2 separate regions of the Homo sapiens genome follow, and region 2 is linked to region 1. Evidence: fine-mapped expression QTL. A gene starts in region 1. The other region holds a variant in brackets. All regions are shown on one strand. Distances are from middle to middle.

Evidence for each region. PIP is the estimated chance that this variant, and not a neighbour inherited with it, causes the effect. A credible set is the group of variants that fine-mapping cannot tell apart.
Region 2: its variant is the best candidate, but not a certain one, in a credible set for the expression of RNF146 in spleen (GTEx, PIP 0.86).

The regions. Positions count from the first base shown.
Region 1 is chr6:127,260,754-127,271,460 of GRCh38, forward strand. It overlaps RNF146 (ring finger protein 146), which reads left to right and starts at 6,111. Exons shown (of 3, transcript NM_001242850.2): 1 at 6,111-6,172. RefSeq lists silencers at 6,070-6,169, 6,270-6,539 and an enhancer at 6,740-6,799.
Region 2 is chr6:127,202,513-127,213,219 of GRCh38, forward strand. It overlaps LOC105377989 (a long non-coding RNA gene), which reads right to left and starts at 10,332. Exons shown (of 14, transcript XR_002956387.2): 1 at 10,221-10,332. The variant G/C (reference allele first, on the strand shown) is at 5,356.

The DNA.
Region 1 (10,707 bases):
GCATTAAGTAAATGTGGCACATATACACCATGGAATACTGTGCAGCCCTAAAAAAGGATGAGTTCATGTCCTTTGCAGGGCCATGGATGAAGCTGGAAACCATCATTCTGAGCAAACTAGCACAAGGACAGAAAACCAAACACCGCATGTTCTCACTCATAGGTGGGAATTGAACAATGAGAACACTTGGACACAGGGTAGGGAACATCACACACTGGGCCCTGTTGTAGGGTGGTGGTTGGGGGAGGGATAGCATTAGGAGAAATACCTAATGTAAATGACGAGTTAATGGGTGCAACAAACCAACATGGCACATGTATACCTATATAACAAACCTGCACGTTGTGCACATGCACCCTAGAACTTAAAGTATAAAAATATATATATATAGACTCTATAAAACAGAAAAAGAAAATAATTTATCAGTTTTTGCCAAAAGACAATAGAAGTTATGAAATTATAGGTATTTATTCTTATGCTTTCTAGTAGACTGAATGAGAGGCTCTGGCGGAACTAGCTCAGAATTTGAGACAGGTCAAATAATGTAATTGTAATAGCTAAGGTTTTTCAACCTTGGCCAAGTACTTTATCTTAAATTTCATTATCAAATCTCTGAATAGAGGTGATAATTTACCCGTTTTATGGCTACATATAAAAAAATTGACATTTGGATACAGTAAGTAGCATGCCCGAATTAGTTTATGGCGCTCCTGATCCTAGGACTCATCGTGTCTTTACTGAACCTTTACTGATGCATGTCCATATTCCCCTCAGCTGGTCTCTCTCTCTTCACCGTGGTTCTACTCTGGGCTACCTGTGAACACTGGTAACCTCAATGAGTTGCAGTTGTCTCATAGAACAATGATGAAAAGATATTCGTGGACCTGGATCATTATGGTGAAAAAAATGGTTTGTTAAGAGCTTAGAAAATAATAGGCAATCAATTATTCTAGTTCTTTCCATATTTCAGAATATATATCACCTTGAGCAATATAATAAATCATTTTTCAAACTTTTTGAACCACATATTTGATGCCCAGTCTCACAATGGCATTTCTATGTTCTGCTTTATATCTAATGGAGCTGGAAAAAGTTGTTTTTGAGAATCCTTTGACAGATGGTTTCTTGTTTAGTTTTGTCAATTGAAGGCAATCACATGGAAAAAGTAAGTGGAAAGGAGAAGGTGATTTCTTTCCTATTCGTTTCTGGTTCTGACATTGGAGTGGTAGGTGACTGCTTATGGCTGTGAGTTCCTGGACTTCTGCAGGCTCAGTGTGCATATGGGACCCTGACTTCCTATTATAGCAGTTCATAAAAAGTGCTCTAGCAGCCTCCAGGAGCTCCCAGAACACCCTTTGCTCCTCCAAACTTAGATGAGCCAGTGACTTTCTGCAGTTACTGATTTCAAGGTATCTTCATCTTTCTTTTTTGGTTCCTCCAGTTTTCTAACACTTTCACCACCATTTCACTACATTAGAGTCTCTGTCTGAAATACTTAAGGTGGTTTTTGTTTTCCAAAGAGAATCTTGCTTGACAAACTTCTGTGAAAATACTTCAAACTTTTAGGTTATAATTATATTAAACTGATACAGGAAAATGTGACATTGCAAAACATAGTTGCTGCCTTGATGACCTTAAGCAATTTCCTTTATGTGATGGAGTACATTGTTTAAGGGACTATTTTGTTAAAATAATAAGCTAGCTTAAAAAACCTCCACTGTTAAAATACAGCATTTATTCTTATCTTTTAATACTATGGTCAATGAAAGGTTATGTCATTTAATGAAACAAGCATGGACTTTGGAGACATCAGAGCTACTACTGTCAATATAAGACATCTAAAAATTAATAAATACATATTATATACATACAACCAGGTTAGGAAATAAATGCATCGTTGACTTTATAGTCAAACTATAAAGTTTAACTCAGTGACTCTTGGGGCTATTTTCTAGCCATACATTATCCTAATTCAGTTGTAATGTCTGTGGGCAACGCAGGAACATTAAGAACCATTAGAAGAGAAAGCATTGATAATCACAGTAGGTAAAAGAAAAACACAAGCTAAACTGGCTAGTGTACTATTATTTGCAAAGGAGTTCTACTAGAAAATAATATACTGTTTGATTACTGTAAGTAGAACATCAAATGATAGGACAGAAACCAACCTATGTATCAGCTCTGGAAACAAAGTTTTTAATTAAAATAAACAAAGTTTGCTTTCCAAAGCTTCCTCTTGGTTTGATTTCCATTCATCTGCTAGCTATAATGACTGGTACATTCCTGAATCTGGTTTGTTCTGTTTCCAGGCATATGAGAAAGTTGTGTCCACAGCTATCAGATGGTTGCCGGCATGTGAAAAGGGAAGAAATTTAACTTAGAGTTGGTAAGCAAAATAGCCCCAGACAAGCATTCTTATTTGGTCTCAGGACCCTTTGACAGTGCTAATTTATAGAAGACCCCAAAAAACTTTTATGAGCTAATCAATATTTACCAAATTAAAAGTTGAAATTGAGAATGGTTTACAATATATACTAATTCATTTAAAAATGACTCATTGTATTAACATACTTTATTAAAAAAAAAAACACTACATTTTCCAAAACAAAGCTAACTGAATGAAAGAAGAGTGCAGTTTTACTTTTTTTTTTTTTTTACATCGTTTTAATGACTGGTTTAATAGATATAGTCAAATTCTCATATCTGCTTCTATAATCAATCTATTGCTACATCACATACCATGTAGCTTCTGGAAAACTCCACTGTACATTTGAGAGTGCAAGTAAACAAAGCAACTAGAGTCTTAGTATTATTATAAGAACAATTTTCCCTCAGACACTCTGCAAGAGTCAAAGGACCCCTATGGGTCACTAGATAACACTTGGAACACCGCCGCCCTAAACTAGCCACGAGTGGTTTCAACGTACATTCTATTGTAACACATCATTTTCTCATGCATTTTCATGGATGTCTTCAGATATTAAGTAAACAAAAAAAAATGCTTTGATCCTTAAGTAAAACAAATAACATTGGACAATTTTTGAGTGTTGGAAGGATAAATGGAGAAGAGTAGGTGCCTGGAGATGTGTGGTATTCAGCAAAGTATTTTGTAAGTTGTGGGAAATAGACAATAAGCTATAAGCAAACAGGCAACTGGGTAATTCCTAGCAGTCAGCTGCAACTTCTTTACCTTTGATTCAATGAAGCAAAATGGAATCCCAGTGACAGTAACATTATTACAGAAATACATTGAAACTGTTAGGCTCTGATTTATTTAAGCAAATAATTTGAAGTTTTGGTACTTAAAATTACTGGAAACCAGTTACTCTTAATTACTGGAAACCAGCACTCTGACAATGTTGAGAGGTGCTGTCCTGTGTTATTCAAAGATATAAACTTCTATCTTTCTTTCAAGTGGCTGATGGAGGTAGGGTGTATAGTATTCCATGCATTCAATTCTGCTTTTCATATGCAACTACTGAAAAATGAGAAGTTCACTTTTATTCATATATATATACAAATGGGGATATATTCATATATATATATAAATGGAGATATATATATATTCATATATATATATAAATGGGGATATATATACACACTCACATACACAAATGTGGTTTTTGGGGTTTTTTTGAGACGGAGTCTTGCTCTGTTGCAGTGCAGGCTGGAGTGCAGTGACACGATCTCGGGCAACTTCCGCCTCCCAGGTTCAAGCGATTCTCCTGCCTCAGCCTCCCGAGTAGCTGGGATTACAGGCGCGTGCCACCATGCCCAGCTAATTTTTTTGTGTTTTTAGTAGAGACAGGGTTTCACTGTGTTAGCCACGGTGGTCTTGATCTACTGACCTCGTGATCCGCCCACTTCGGCCTCCTAAAGTCCTGGGATTACAGGCGTGAGCTACTGCCCGGCCATGTGTGTATTCATTCATTCATTCATTCATTTACTCATTCATGTAACACATATTTACAGAGAACCTCTTTAAGTGTGTCAGGCACTATTCCTGGCAGTTGAGATACAAAACAGAACACACATTCCTGGCCTCCTGTGTCTTGCGTCCTAATGTGATGAGAAATATGATGAAGATTAGTAAGTAAAATAAATTATCCATTACACTGTGATAAGTATTAAAAAGTAAAGGAGGAAATATGAAATATTGGGAATGGAAACATCATGACTTAAAATATGCTGACAAGTAGAGGGACTGACTGAAGAGTTGGACATCTGAGCACATATGGAGGGAGCATGATGGGGAAGAGTGTTCTAAGCAGAGGAAACCACAACTGCAAAGACTATGAGGTTGGCAGCTTGTGGAGAGCTTTCTGGGAATACAAAGCTGGGTAAACAGTCTGTGGGGTCAAAGAGGTAATGAGGGGAGGATTTTAAAGCCATCGTTAGGACTTTGGTTTTTACTTGTGTTGGGAAGCCACAGGAGACTTTGAGCAAAGGAGTGGTACGATCTCACTTCTTTTTAAGTAGATTTATTTAGGATTCTGTATTAAGGATAGAGTCAAAAGACTAGTTCCTGGTCTACCGTAACACTATAATCCAAACAAGAGATGATGCAGATTGTAGCGGAGGTGGTAAGTAGTTGGATATACTTTGAAGGAAGAGCCAACAGGTTATATGCCAAATGCATATAAGACATAAAAGAGAGGAGTTAAAGGTGGGTTTGAACAAGGAAAGATGCAACCATTTACTGAAATACAAAGACCTTGGGTATGAGTGAGAAGGGGTTGAACTAGCTGACATCTTACAGTCTGTGCCTGGATTCAAATCTCAGCTGTGTGTGTCTCTCTCTCTGTAAAATGGGAATAATAATAGTGCCTACCTCATAGTTTATTATGAGAATTAAGTGGGTATATATGAATAAAGCACTTAGAGCAACACCTGGCACATTGTTAGTTAATATTAGCATTACCTCTTCAAGCTGGAATCTTCGAGTACATATCAAATTTTAGCTATTCTCTGTTCATGGGCTGTGTAGGATAGAGGGACAAAACTGAGTGGCTAATAAGAAGATAAAGATAGAAAACTAAGCTTAAAGTTAAAGGATATACACTTCAATATTTCTACATGTATGGAACAGTATTGCATACACGCGCAAGCATCACTGAACTAGATGCACCCTTCAAGAGATTGGGTTACATATTGATATATATGAATGAGAACCCTGAAATAAACTGATTTCAGAGGAATAACAGAAAACATATACATTTCTATACCTATAAGGACACTGAAAACTTCCAATCCTGAATCAAACAGTTAATGAAATCCCAAAATGCAACACTAATGCAAATGAGAAGACGCTGTCATAGAATGTTGAAATACATACTCTTCTAAAGATAAAAGGTCTGCTCTTCCACCCTCTTCATTTTCCTACAAATTAGGAAAATTTAATCAGTTCTGAAAAAGGAAATGTACATGCTAAAATGGTGAATTACTGCTAGAGTTCTGATGTTTAAAACCACAGGCTTGCGATCAAAATAACCTCTTTAATTTTAGATTATCATGCAGATTAATTTCTTCAGTTTCTCAGGCACTATTCTGTTTTTTTTAAAAAAAGGGTGGGGTTTCAAAAGAAAACTAATACTCATTTTTTCCCCGATTAAATTGCTCAACCATTAAAAAGGAGAACAAATTGGAAAGTCCTACAGTACTCTCTCCCCTCCGTCCCCCCCCTCCCCATTTTTTTTCTTGAAAGGGAACAAGCAGTACTTTTGCTAAGGGATCTTTAAGCCGAAACTCAGCTAGGCGCCCCAGAGCTTCCTCAGGATAGCAAAGCTGGATTTTTGAGCAGCACCACCTGCTGGTCCTACACACGTTTTACTTCCTCCACCCCAAATCTCTTTCTGTTGGAACTGCACTCTTTCAGAGCCTCTGGGCCCTAATACAAAGCAAGCACACTCTAAAGAAGCCAGAAGAATGCAAGCAGCGAAGTCGCCGCTCCCCACAGGCAAGAGAGTACCGGCAGACAGCGGCGCGAGACAGGGGCAGAACGATGAGGCGCCGGAGTTAGCTCGCCGGTGCGGGTGCGGGTGCGCGGCGCGTCGCGGCCCCTCCTCCGCGACGCGCCGGGTGGTCACGTGACGGCCGCGCGCGTTCCCGGCAGCTGCGGGCTCCGAGGCCAGAGAGAAAAGACTGCGAGGTGGCCGCAGCTGTGGCCGGAGAGGTGGGAGTCGGAGCGAGGCCCTCTCGGGGGAGCAGGGTGAACGCCGGCCACTCTAGGATCCTCACTCGGGGAGAGGAGGCATAGCTCGCGGTGTCACCTCCAGCCGCAACGTACTCCGGGTCGGCCTTGCGCTCGGGGCCTGAGAGGGGCGGCGGCGGGGTCAGGGGCCGGTACGTAGATGGACGCCCTTGGGCTGGCGCGGCCCCGGCTGTCCGCGCAGAGGCGGGATGGGACAGTTCAGCCCTTTCCGCCACCCCCGCCTTGGCTGCTGGGGCAGGCAAGACGACCGTGACAGCCCCTGCGCTGCCCGAGGGCGCCGCAGCCCCTGCCCTGGGTGACGGCCGGAGCTGGTCTCGGTCCGGGTGCGAGGGGCGGAGCAGCGGCCATTACTGCGCAGCCTCTTCCGCCTGAGCCCGCTTCGCTGCCTCGGGTGGCAGGCGGGTCCCTCTCCTCCCCTCTGGGCCGTGGTTTTAGGCCTTTACCCGGGGACCTTCTGGCCTCGAGGTGTAGGGGCGGCGATGGTTTTTCGGCGGTAGCCTGCTCCATGTTTTCCCGTGTGGGGTCAGACAGTTTGGGCCTTGGGTCAGATCGAAGCCAGGGCGTACAGTCTGCATTTTTGCCTTTTCCCGGAGTGTCTCTGGCTGCTGCTTTCTCTTCTCTCGCTCTTCCTCCTTTTTTTTCTCCTGCTCAGTGTCTCGGTCTTGCCTAAAACGAAGAGAGCAATCCCTGCACCTTGTCCTAGTGAAGCCCAGCGCTGCATATTCTTAGTTGTTTTTGACGGCTGTTGAAGCATCGGAACAATTAAGAGATCTCAGAATATCCCTTGAGCCTCCAAACCCTCTGCATCTTAAAAGCTGAGGCTGTTGCTTTGTTCTGATTGTTGGGTGGGGAGTTCTCTTCCTACCCTCCATCCCGTCTGAAGGAGTGTGGGTCTTCCATTGTTGTCGCTATTTATTTTGCTAAGGCTTCTAAAGAATGTAAAATTGTTTTAAGAGTGGAGACGGAACCGTCCTCTCCACAGGTAAAACCTACAGGACTGTAAGTTTACACACACATCCTGGCAACTAGAATCTTTTCTCGTTAATCATATTGGTATATGTTTTAATTTATTTTCTCTAAGTGCCATTTTAGTGAGCACTTATTTCTCAAGTTTTGAACATTTTGTTTAATATTTTTGTAATATCGAAACAGTGTAGAACTGAGGAGAGAAGAAAGCCCAAAGATGATAGGGTACGCTTTGTTCTTTGTATGATTGGCATTTCAGGTAGTGGGCACATCCCCCCCACCTCGTGTGTGTACTTTTCAAATGGGATGTGAACGTATAATATTGGCATTCAATCCAGTATATAATTATAGAATTTGGAAGACTTAGGACATTTTAGTCAGTGAATCTATATTTAGACTTTTCAAAGACATGGCACGTAAGGACACGTGGAGAAAATGTCCCACACAGATAACAGGATTTGTGATTTTGGCTTTGCTGTTTTATGATTAGCAAATATTGTTTGTATAGAGTGTCTGGGTGCCCTAAAAACACATGAAAATAGGTCAACTAAATCTCGTTTTAAAGAGAAAACCGGAAGAGTGAACACCACTCTAAAAATAGATTTTGGATGTGTTTGTTTTGGTGCCTTGTATATCTTAAAGTGGAGGATGTTGTTCAGCCCAATCTTTCATTTAGAATTTATGTCTCAAATGAGCCAGTGTATCATGTGGGCAGACTGGAAATACATTTAAATATTTTTTTTCTTCGCTGGTTGTTCAGAACTTGGTAGAATTATAATTATCAGGAAAACTCTCTCCAAATAGCTGGTCTTTTAGACAAGAGAAGAAAAAAGAAATAACTTCTTTTAAAAGGAGATGTCAACTTACAAAGTGTTTTGTTTCAGTCTCCACCAACCTAACTTGTCAGAGGAAAGGAACAGACTTTTTTTTTTAAAGGATCCAAAACGATATTTTGAGTCAAAAGAAGAAAAGGATATTAAATCTTTTGTTTTCACAATATCGATCTTTTTAAAGAATATTATTTTATATGTTAACCATATACTACCAGGAAACATCTAACAGCACTGACAGTTGGGAATTCGAATGCGTATTTTTCTCCCGTGTTAGTAATAGAAGGTACTGAGCCTTTTCCATTCTCTTGGTTGCCTTGTGCCTGAGGAATCTGAATTTGTGAAACAACATCTTTGTGGATATAGAAACTAATTTATGTAACACTTGGCTACAACCACCTGTGCTTACTTACGGACTATCTTTAGTTTTCATGGCGTGTTACCTTTTGGGTTAATTCAAATCCAAAATGTTGTTAACGGACTGCTAATTAAAGCATTTAGAACTTAGAATTACAGAATTATAGAGTAGGATGAGATAACAAAAGACTGGGGGTTATGACTTGACCAAGGTCACACAGATAATTTGCCAAAGAGCTTTCTTATTTATGAAATGGTTGCTGGCTAAGAAACATCTGTGTGTGATATGATTAAAAGACAATATTCGTTCACTTTTACATCTCATGTTTTGAAATAAAATGCAAAGCTCACTTTTTTGTTGTTTTGAGAAAAATTAAAGGGTTTAATGGGCTAGTATAAAGATTGTGAAGGCAGTAAGTAGACTGCCACATAGTAACGTCTTAAAGGGAAATAATTCTTTAAAGTATCAGACCCCATTTAGTTGAAATGAGTTTTGTCTGAAGTTTCCAAGTATGACCTATGCTTTTTCTTAGCTAATTTTTAGCAGGAGATGATGAGGGCTAAAAATTGAGACATTAGGGCATTTAGTTACATCTCTCAATTTGTGACTGGTTTATAAAAAATACTAAGATGTGTCTGCTAACTCACACCTGATTTATCTACTCCTTTTATGTATATATAATTTTTTTTGAGTTGTGTACCAAAAGTTGGAACATTTCAAGTATTTTTTCTTTCTGTCACTGAGTGATTTCATGTAGAACATTTACTGTTTTGTGTATTTTGAATAAATGGCAAAAATCTTATTAAACATTAGCTGTTAATAATTAGAAAAATACAGTAAGTCTTCAAATATTTATAATTGATATTTGTCTTTGTTTTTATATGTATTTATATTGATGTTATATGCTCATCTTTTTCTTTGATTAAAGATAATCGCTTGCTTGAATCTATTACCTGAAAAAAACTCTTGACTTTGATCTTGTGACTGACTTGAAAAGTGGGAGTATGAGTATTTTGAGTTGTTACAAATTATAAATGGTACAATATTACTTCATTTTTAGTTGTATTTATTTTTCACTTATTTGAATGGGTCAAGATTTAAATTCATTGATAATCCCTAAACCCCTTTGTGTATTTTTAAGTTTTACCTGTCACTGTTTTTTTCCTCCAGAATTGTTAGGGGCAAAGTATCTAATTTGGTTTTAGACTTTTTCTTTTTTTTATGTTACCTTCTTCATACATCATCATATTAAGTTTGGTGTAAAATTTACAGGTCATTCATTCCAGTAGGAATTATGTATGTTTGAGTTATTTATGTTTGGCAAATTAATTCTGGCCTGTAGTTGAAATCATACTGTTCTGTTTTACATCCCCCTATTGGTTAAAATAAAAGCATCCCTTCTCCTCCAACTTTAAAAAAACTTTGGTTTCAAATAATGTGGGAGTTTTCTGAGGGCTTCTTCACATGATTGTTATAAGTATTACATGTATGCCCTATTTTGTGCCCAGTTGAAATTATAGTTGACCATTGAACAAAGGTTTGAACCGTGTAGTTCCACTTATACAATACTTTTTTTTTCTGCCCCTGCCACCCCTGAGAGAGCAAAACCAATGTTTCTTTCTCGTCCTCCTGAAAAAGATGAAGGCCTTTATGATGATCCATTTCTACTTAATGAATGTAAACATATTTTTCTTCCTTATGATTTTTTTTTTTTTTGAGATGGAGTCTTGCTCTGTCATTAGGCTGGAGTGCAGTGGTGCGATCTTGGCTCACTGCAACCTCCACCTCCCAGATTCAAGAGATTCTCCTGCCTCAGCCTCCCAATTAGCTGGGACTACAGGTGTGCGCCACCATGCCCAGCTAATTTTTGTATTTTTAGTAGAGACGGGGTTTCACCATGTTGGCCAGGATGGTATTGATCTCTTGACCTCATGATCTTCCTGCCTCAGCTTCCCAAAGTGCTAAGATTACAGGCGTGAGCCACCGCACCTGGCCTCCTTACGATTTTTTAAATAATGTTTTCTTTTTTTTAGTTTATTGCAAGAAAACAATATATAATACAACATACAAAACATATATTAATCCACTGTTTATGTTATCAGTAAAGCTTCCAGGCAATAGTAGACTATTAGTAGTTAAGTTTTTGGAAACTCAAAAGTTTACATGGAATTTTGACTGCGCAGGGTGTAGACATTCTTAACTCCTCACATTGTTCAAGGGTCAACTGTATAAATTCTGAGAGTTAATAGGTGATGGGTCAGTTTGGCAGAATTGGGGCTACCTAAACCCATTAACTTTGATTATAACAGAATATGCAGTTTTCTTTTTTAATGTGTCTTCGG
Region 2 (10,707 bases), 58 kb before region 1:
TTAGTCAGCATGGTCTCGACCTCCTAACCTCGTGATCCGCCCGCCTCGGCCTCCCAAAGTGCTGGGATTACAGGCGTGAGCCACTGCGCCCGGCCCCATTTATACTTCTTAAAAGAAGTTTAATAAAAATAAACTAGAAAACAAAAATAGAAACACTTTGTGTTTCACATACAAGGGATTTTCCTCATGTGGCAACTATTTGGAAGAAGGTCCTATTTATCACTAAGTTCACCCTTACTGATCTTTTTCCCATAGTAAAAAAAAAATGATTATGACTCACTTTATGAACACACCAAATGCTACAGGAAAATAGATTTTAGTTTTATCCAAACCAGCAGTGAGAATAATTTATGATTCCAAAAAAGACATAGACATGCAGAGTCAATTTAGGAAAGTGAGTCAGTTTCATGCAAATAAGTTCTAGCTTTCTTGATTGCCAGTCTCCTTTTAATGTTGGAATTTTAGGGGGGGAAATGAATTATTGTGGTAAACCAACAATTCCACTTGTTAACTATGGAATATTTAAAGGATAGCTTAATATGTACATGTGAAAGGGTCAAGAGAATAGAGTTTTATTTGAATATCCAGATGATCCAATTAAATCCAAAATGGTATTATTTCTAGAACAGAAGAGACCATTAGAATGTGCTGTTCTAGTATCTCTAGAATTCTCAAATTTATTATGAGAATTATCCTTTCCACAATTGTCAAAATAGATTGTTTGGCCATAAACATCCTTGCAAGCCTAAGCAATTTGAAATTCAGGGCCTATATCAGTTTCCTTGCCTCCACCCCTTTCACCCCCAAAAGAAACCAGTCAATTAGATAATGGATAAATTAACACTATATTGACAAGCAAAGAATAATTAGAAATTAATAAGCATAAAGAGAAATGACTGTGTAAAAAAATCACTTGTTTCAGGTTTAATGTAGTCACTTTGGGACAGGAATATAAAACATGAAACATGAAAATAGTCAGCAGATGCCCTTTCCATCCATTAATAAAGTATCTTTTAAATAAATAATCAATCAACCTATAGATTCTGCCATTAGGAAATTAGCAACAGTGCTTTGCTGTACCAGTAGAGCTATCAGATTAGACAATTTTCATATGTATAGGTGACATAACATTCTCCTAAAATTTTCTATCAGGTTTCTAGATGGAGGTTAAAAGCCTTGTATGATTTTGTAATAATTGATATACCAAGCCTGGCATCCACAATAAATATTGATGTTTTCCATTCTGTAAAAATGATATAAAACATATTAGTGCTTTTATAGTTATGCAACTTTGTATGTTTTGATACCAAAAAAGATCCAGAAAATGTGAAAATACAGATAGTTATCTAAGTATAGCTTCACCGAGATTGGGTGATTTAATTATCAATTTGAAGGAAAACTCTTTTATCTGTAACAATGATCATAACTGAACTACTGAACTGGCCAGCAAAATTAATGTCTTGATCTGCCACTCAAGCAGTATTTAGTCATTATTTTCAAATGACTAAAATTAAATAAAATAAACTATACCTTTGAGAATCATTTTAACTGAAGTAGCCAGTTATAAGGGCTAGCCACAGGCAGTGTTTACAAAATGTCTCTTTAAGAGGTGTAAGATTATTTCAGATCCACAAAGAAAAAGCAGCAGATGGTCCTGCTTTTCCCTTGTATCACTTGAAACATACAAGACTTAAATATTAAGTTAAAAGTGTATTGAGAATACTTCAGAAAACAAATCTATGCCCAAATCACTCCTTAAAGCATGGAAAGAAAAATAATGCTAAAGTGGAGGAAAATAATTAAAAGTGGAATTCCCTATATATTCTAATTTGCAAGATGAAGCTTCACTCTTCCTGCAAAATACTACATTATGGGTATGAAGACGCCACACCAGTCCTAACCAAAACATGTCTCAGCCCTTCTCCAGCCTTCACCAAATATCACATTGCCAGCTTCTCTTTTGTCATGTCCTTGCACTTCCACAAATTGGATTTCCCATCAGAGTGTTAGTACACTCTGATGAACTCAACAAAGCAGAAGTAAGAAAAAACAACTTTAAAAATGTTGTTTTTATATTACAAAGCAATGTTTCAAATAAATGTTATTCAATATTACTGAAATGGCATTGAAATAGTCATAATGAGAAAAGTGAGAACTTGGTTGAACTTTCTTATACTGGTTTTACAATTTAATTCTGTGTTAGTTTGCAATACATTAAAAAAAGGAACGACAGAATCTTTCAAAATCCTTGGTCCAGTCCTACTGCACAAACACAAGCACCTACTGCCTCCCTTCTCTCCCGTTAGTCAATCCTAAGCCTTGCCTGAGAAATATCAGTGATTCTGTCAAATACTACAGACTGCTCTCTATCCTGAGTGCCTTGAGAAGGTCTCCAGCTATTCCAGTGTCACCTTTGACAGGAGGCAAAGGTGGTAAGCAAAGGTGTCAAGGCCCTGTCATCCATTCTGCCTTGTGTTTCTTTCATTTCCTGTACAGGGTAACTGCTCAGAAAAACTCAACTATTTCTCACAGGACAAATCATATAAAACCTTACAGGATTAAAAAAAGAGAGAGAGAAGCGCTTGTAATGAAAAGAAACGAAAGAAATAATAAGAGAACACACAAGAGGAAACCAGTCACACCCATTCTCTCTAGTGCTATGTAGCTTAACCCACACCCAAAGTAAACTGCCTTCACTTCAAGAAGCTGTCTCTCTGTAAATAAACTGACCAATGTATCTTTAAGACATAAACATCTTGGACTGCCATAATAAACATTGCAAAATAAATACAAAATAACATCTGGAGGCAAAGCTTTGCTAGGAGTGGGGTGAGAGGGAGTGCTAGCTTTTCTTAGCACCATTAATAAAGTATTAATTTCATTTTCTTTTAGTTTGGAAAATGCTTTCCATTATTAACCAAAAACAAATCAAAGACTTACTGATTTTACTTTAAAATCCAAAGAATGGAATACTGTCTGTCCATAATGGCTTTTTGCAAGTTGGGCTTATCTTCTTAGTTATATTTTAATTCCCTTGTTTTCTACTGTTTGAAACTAGCACTCAGTCACCAAGCAGTTAATTTAGATATGAAAATGGTTTATATTTAGGTCTAATTATTACTGTCCTGTTACATAAAAATCTTCTTTCTGTCTTGGGAAACCAATTTCTCCAATATAATGTACCAGAAAAACACAATACTTCCATTGTAAGAGTATATTATAATGATTATGACATTCAACCATTGTTTCTCATTGCAATGGCAGAGACCATGTTTCATGCACTTCCTATCAGCATCCGACTTATGTGTAGTTATCCCATTCAATTAACATTTATCATCGGCAAACAGCAACTGGTCCAGCTCTCTACCTGTACAAAATAATTACATCAAATGCTTGAGTTGCTCCTAGTAAATTTTACTATAATATTATTATGTAGATAATTGCCCTAGGAATTACTTCTCTTATTTTGTGTAATGCTCTGGTAAGATTTTTTGTAGGTGACATAGAAAGCATTGTATTCCAATGCCAAGAAAAAAAAAAAACTCATTAGAAATATATGTAACTTACAGCCAGGCGCCATGGCTCACGCCTGTAATCCCAGCACTTTGGGAGGCCGAGGTGGGTGGATCGATCACCCGAGTACAGGAGTTCCAGACCAGCCTGGCCAACACGGTGAAACCCCAACTCTACTAAAAATACAAAAAATTAGCTGAGCATGGTGGCAGGCACCTGTAGGCCCAGCTAATTGGGAGGCTGAGGCAGGAGAATCACTTGAACCCAGGAGGTGGAGGTTGAAGTGAGTCGAGATTATGCCATTGCACTCCAGCCTGGGAGACAAGAGCAAAACTCTGTCTCAAAAAAAAAAAAAAGAAAAGAAATATATGTAACTTATGAGTAAATTATAATACCTCCTAAAAACCATTATACCTAATTTACAATAACTACTACTAATAATGACAAAATAAATTATTTGAAATGTATATACCCTAAATTATTTCTTGTTCCCAATGTATAAATCTTTATTTTTATAAAATGAAATAAACTTGTTAACTATCAGGGGAACAGTAAATGCCTTCCATTTAGTCAAATAAATATGTAAGGATATTTAATCTCATATAAGTGTTTTTTAAAAGTATACTTGTCTCTCTTTCCATAGGAAGTAATGTCTGGCAGAGGAAAACTGCTGAGCTATGTCTGAGATAGTTTCATCTGCTCACAGGCTGCTCCTGATGGCACATATTTATTGTGTTTCTCACATGGCCTAAACTATACCAGCAAAATGAGGAATTCAGTTTTCCTTTTAAAAAATTTTCCTTTTGAAAATAACAGGCATTTTACTAAACATTCCTTTTTTTCTTATTTTGATTAGCCAAAATGCCAGTTGCAGGCAGGCTACATAAAGGATATTCTAAATTCCAGACCCTCTTTCATCAGATATTGCAAAGGCTGAAAGTAAGATCAAATTTACCCAAGCCACAAGTTGTAATAAATTTAAAAGAATCATCTTTGGCTTCCATTATTAGTCATTTCCTCTCTTTCAACAAACAATAATTCAACAAATAAAAATTTTAAAAGTTCTGTCTATTTTAGGCTTTGCAGATAGAAAGACTTGCATTTAAATCTCTTTATTATTGACCGTGCACTCTTGGAAAAGTAATTTATTTGATTCTCCATATATTCATATATAAAATAAATATAATATTTTTACAGACTGTATAGAGTTGTGAAGATTAAAGGAAACTATGTGGCATGCCAAGTATGTACTGGGTTCCCAGTAAATTGCTACTAATTAAAATGTATGTGCTTTGCTTAAAATAGAATTTCCAAGTCACTCTGAAACAGAAATATCGATATTTCTGTTATATATAAATATATATAAATACAATCATGTAAACACACATACATACACATATATTTCCTTCAATAATCAATCTTTCTATAATATTTAATTTAATCAATAGGTATTTACAGTATATCTACTGTTCACCAGGCAACATGCTTGATACAGATAATACAAATCCACAAAATAAAATTCTTGTCTTTGAATCTTCCTACTAGGAGAAACACATAAGATACCCAAATGCTATGAGGGTATTTTACCTAAGTCTGTGCCTCCTGGTGCGGAGGTCAAGAGGAATGAGCCCCTAACTCAGGCTTGGATGCAGGAGCAGGAGAGGATGAGTGTTTAGTAACGTGAGCTAATTCCTCAATCATGAGTACTTCTTTGGCAGTGAAACAAAATAGGAAATGAATGTCGGGTTGGGTATCACAGGCCATGAGAAAAGCCTGGCATAAATGAGAATATGCAGTTTGGGGAATTACAAGTAGTTTCTGTGTTCTCTGGCAAGAGATTTG[G/C]GAAGTGTGAACAGGAAACAGATGATAAATGGCCTTATATGTTATGGGAAAGAGTCTATACTTTATCTTGAAAACAGTGATGAGTCTGTTAAGGTTTTTATGAGGAGCAATGAAATAATTCTATTTGTCTTAAAAGTTGCCTTTGGTGACAATGAAAAGATGGATTTTTAAGAATGAAGAACACTCGGATGAGTAACAGTTTTAAGTATAGGAGTATAAAATTGTATAGTCAACTTCAAAATAAAAAGAACCTGAATTAATGCAGAAAAAGATGAAGGAGAGGAGGGAATAGACACCAGAGATCATTTGAAGGTAGAAGCCATGAAACATGTAACCAATAGCAAGAAGCAGGGGAGCAAAGTGAGTCCCATGTCTCACTCGGTAAGCAGTGTCATTAATCAGAGAATCACCCACAGCTGAGAGTGGGATTGTTTATTTGCTTTGTTGAGATTGAGGTGTGTGACAGATATTCAATTGAGATAATCTCCTAGGAGTCTGGAATATTATAGGTCTGTCCCTGGGCTAAACTGTATGAAAGGTAGAGATATTGATTTAGAAGTAATTATCTAATAAATAAATCACAGGGCATATGTGAGTGAGCCTAAGGAGAATTCAGTGAAAGAGAAGAAAAAAGATTGAATACAATTAGCAATATTTAAAGAGTGAGTAGAGAAACAGGGAGTTATGAAGGGAACTGAGAAAGATGGACTCAGAGGTAAACAGGTCAAGAATAAAGAAAGCAACATTATAGAAACATTATGGGGCACGATTATATCAAATATTGCAACAAAATCAATCAATCTGAAGACTGGCAGGTGTCCCCAGGACTTGCCAATATGGTGTTCTTTTAGAACTTATTTTAACAAAGTTCTGAGGACAGAATCCAGGTCTCAGTGAGCCAAGAAAGAATGAGAGGTAGGGAATTGAAGATGCAGAATGTAGACAACTCAATAGAGAAGGCTTCTATCTGTGGGTAAGAAGGAAACTCAAGGTACAGCCTACAGAGAGTCAACATATGTTTTATTTGGGTCTGCTTTATGAAGAAATTAGACTACAGCCATTAACCTACTGAGGCAAAGGAGAAAAAAGAGTAAATGTTCTAATTTAACAAAGAGTAGAACTATCCACACCTGTGATAAAACTAAAATTCCACTATAAATATTAAGCGTGAGGGATAAATGTCAATTTTAACAGAATTTCCATTCAAACTTGTTTTCCCCAATACATCTTCCCAACTTTCTCTCTTGACTTCCCATATCACTTCATAATTTTCAGTAAGATATTTTTGCCTTCACCTTTATTTCTCTGTATCCTTTTCTATATAAATGCATTTGGTAATGCTACTTCATCTTAACTGATTTTTTTTTTCATGTAAAATCAATCTTGGTTGCTGCCCTCCTTAACACCTAAGTCAAATTTCTCAACTTTTAGGCAATATTGGCTATTCAACTCTGTGCCCCAAACTCGTGTATACTATATTACTTTCTACTTTTTGTACATTATTTTTTAAATAAATTACAAATAAAATAAAAATAGATGTCAGAATCTTTTTAAAATGTAAAATGCTGTAAAATATCAAGTCTGATAATATTATTAATATCAATTTAAGGATGCCTTATCTCCCCCTTGATCAAATTGTCAGCCAATATTTGAATCATGAATATAAATCACTGACAAGAAAAAAAAATAGCTCAGGTTGACGTCACTGCCTAGTAGCAAAATTTCCCTTAAAAAATTTAAACCTGTTAATTATATTTTATTTAATTAAATACATATATTTATTTCCATATTTGCATTTCCTTTTTCAAACACATGCAGCAGCAGTCTACTATATGCAATCCTGTTTAATGCAACCAGTTATTTTTGTAACAGTTTATAATTCTTTCACATATTGGCATCATTTCAGCTATTCAATTAAAAATGAGATTTTTTTATTAATGTATTCAGTTGCTCATATAAAGCATCTTGTGCTTAGCATATTAAGCAAAAATAGGGCTATATTGTTTCCATTAACTTACTATTTAATCCTTAAAAATAGAAACCTAATGTAATGGTTACAGTATGGATCCAATACTAAATATAGAATTCTAGTTTTCTGTCCTATAGAAACTCAGATGATCTGTAAAAAAATCACACATCTTCACAACTTCTCCTAAGCCAATAAAAGAGAAATGCTTGCTTTCAAGTTAGATTCTAAATCATAAAATTTATTATATAAGGCCAGAAAATAAAGCAATTATCTTACATGTATTGTAAATACTTCTGAAAAAAATCAATTATGTTTCAGCACCCCTCCAAAACTGCTCATTTAAAAAAATTTATTTTCAAAACATATTTCCTTTTTGCCTAAATAACAGGGCTTGCCCTGAGAAACAATTGTGGATTTTGAAGACTGCACCAAAGTTGTGTGTTGGTATCTGATAAAATTCTAAAAATAATGTTAAACTATTGATAAGAAGCTAGAATACCGGCCTTTACCATCAGAGAAAACTACAGGACACATGGGATCACAACCCCTCTCAGGTATCATGCTCTCTGCCTTACTAATCCCATTTTTCTGTTGTGGTTTAGTTTGTTTGCTTTTTAGAGTTTTTAAAGTAATAGATTAGGGAAGTTTTACAGAATGTGTATTGAATTAAATAACAGATTTGACAGAACTTCCCTGAATATATTTATGTATAAGATTTAGAGAAGCAGCTACAATTAGATGGCTCCATATCTGATTGAACAACCCTATGTAAGAAGTATTGATAAAATTATCTATGTCAATCTCTTTGTCCTTCATCTTGCCCTGTTAGCCCCATCTCAATAGCTTAGACGAAGCTAAAGAAAGCATGCCTACTTGAATTTGAAAAAAAAAAAAAAATAGGACAGTGCTGACAGAAATAACTGATACTTTGGAGGAGAAAGTCGAAACTGTAAAATAGCAGGTGTGATGATAGGCTGGGCCAAAATGATAAAATCAGTAAGAAAAGAAAAAATAGGCTTACGTTAAAATACAACAAAACACACAATACAAGGAAATGAATGGCAGTTGGCACGGAAAAAGTCAACCCTCAGAGGTTTTATTGGACCACAAGCTTACTAGGAGCTAAGAAGCTGATAACGGTGCCTAAAGGAGCTAAGGAAGCAATGGTGCTGTGGACAGCCCGCCATTCCCAGAAGCTGCTGCTACTCCCGCCCCCAACCCCCAAAGTCAGGTCCTGGGAAAAAGCTATTCTGAGTGTCTGCATTCTTGGGCTAGAATTTCTTCAAAGGCACCATAATAAAATATCCATACCACTGAGCTGGAGCCTTGAAAAGTGGCCATTCATTCATGTCCTCAAACCACAGCATGTTCAAATTCACCCATGAGCTCTATCAGGAAGTGTAACTCCAGGGAATTCTAGCACATGAGGTGGGATTTTTCAAGGCCACCCCCGTTTTTAAGGGAATTATTCAAATATCCACTAAATGAAAGAAATGGACAGCTCAATTTAGAAGAGCTGTATGTTGGAGTCTAGGTATGGATAGAGAGATGGATGTGAGAAGTGGCTAGATCAGACTGGAAGCAGCACAAAATAAATAGGAAAAGCATAGAATTTGGGGAGTAGGGGATGACCAAGAATGAGAAGGATGTACATGAAGGAAGGAGCCAGAAGAATGGGACTTTGGCTGGGCGCGGTGGCTCACGCCTGTAATCCCAGAACTTTGGGAGGCCGAGGTGGGCGGATCACTAGGTCAGGAGATTGAGACCATCCTGGCCAACACTGGAAAACCCCATCTCTACTAAAACACAAACAAAAATTAGCCGGGCGTAGTGATGCGCGCCTGTAGTCCCAGCTACTTGGGACGCTGAGGCAGGGGAATCGCTTGAACCCGGGAGGCAGAGATTGCAGTGAGCCGAGATCGTGACACTGCACTCCAGCCTGGCCACACGGCCAGACTCCGCGTCAAAAAAAAAAAGAACGGGACTTCATGTTACTGTTTCTAAACCTTAACTTCTCTTAAAGTTCAGAACATCTGGCAAAATCATGCTTTACACTTACTGTACCATTGCCACTTTTTCACTTCTACCACTCCTGACAGATTCATCAAAGATTTGAGCAGATCAATCCACTTTCATTCCTATTTCTACTAATCTTGGACAACTGCCACTTCTGTGTGGACAGTATATTCAACACTCCAACCTTATTGTTTATATATCTCTGTCTGGATACCCTAGTCCATATCATATCCCAAATCATCTAGCTCCAGATTTCTAATTTCTTGATTACCACACTGTGTCCACAATCTCATGTGTTTTCTGCTTCCTCAACTTTTTGGTCCACTGATAATATTCTTCAATCTCATTAAGGACTCTAGTCCTTCACCCTTCCGATTTTACTTAATCTCTCATCCTCCACCTGGCGTCACTAAATTTTTCAGCTGGGCTTCATTTTCCTCACTTGTAAATGGGAGTAGGAATACCCACCTTACATATTTGATGTGAGAATTAGAGATAAATTATGTAAAACATAACCTTGTTCCATGCTAAAAGTAGGCATTAAGTGATGGTTACCAACCTTAATCCCCATAAAGCTCATGACATTTTACTTAGAGATCTCTCTTGCCATTACCATCAGTTCCCTTGCCTTTTGTCCTTCTTCTGCACCTAATTAGCAAAACTCAAACCCTGGATCAACCAATCACTCCCTTTCCAGTCACATATCTGGCTGCCAAGCACTGCTAAAAACAAATTCCACAACCACATGGATTGATGCCACTACAAATTTATGGTCTCCCACATCAGTTGGGCTATTAACACTACACAGTAAAACTTCTAACTATCCCTAATCCACTTCCTCTGTCATTCACCACAATAATATTTTCAAACTTTCACTAACCTGATTTTCTCCATCATTCTCAGCAAATGAACTCTGCTTTAGAGAGAAAATACAGATCATCTTGCAAGAACGTTCTCCACTTCCTTTCTCTCCCCAAAACACAAACAAGTGTAAATATAGTCAGAGCCAGCCTTACCTCTTCCCTTTCTATTTTAGCTAAATTGTTGTCCTACATTTCAAATGTTAAACCTACCATCTGTTCTTTGAATCACATCTTCTCATTTCTTTGGGAAGCTTACATTGCGTCTCTTCTCTTCTGTATTTCAACTTCTCTTTTTCTTTCAGCATCTCCTATTTTGTCGCTCTGTTTCCTTCTAGTGTACACCTTAGTTTTTCGTTCACCTTACAACCATGTTTCTCCAAAGAGCAGTATGTACTTACCTCCATGACTCCATTTTTTAGGACTGTGTCAACCACCATATCTGTGTTTTTCTATCTCTATTACAGTAAATTCAATCTTGCAAATGTCTTTAATTACTAAAAACAA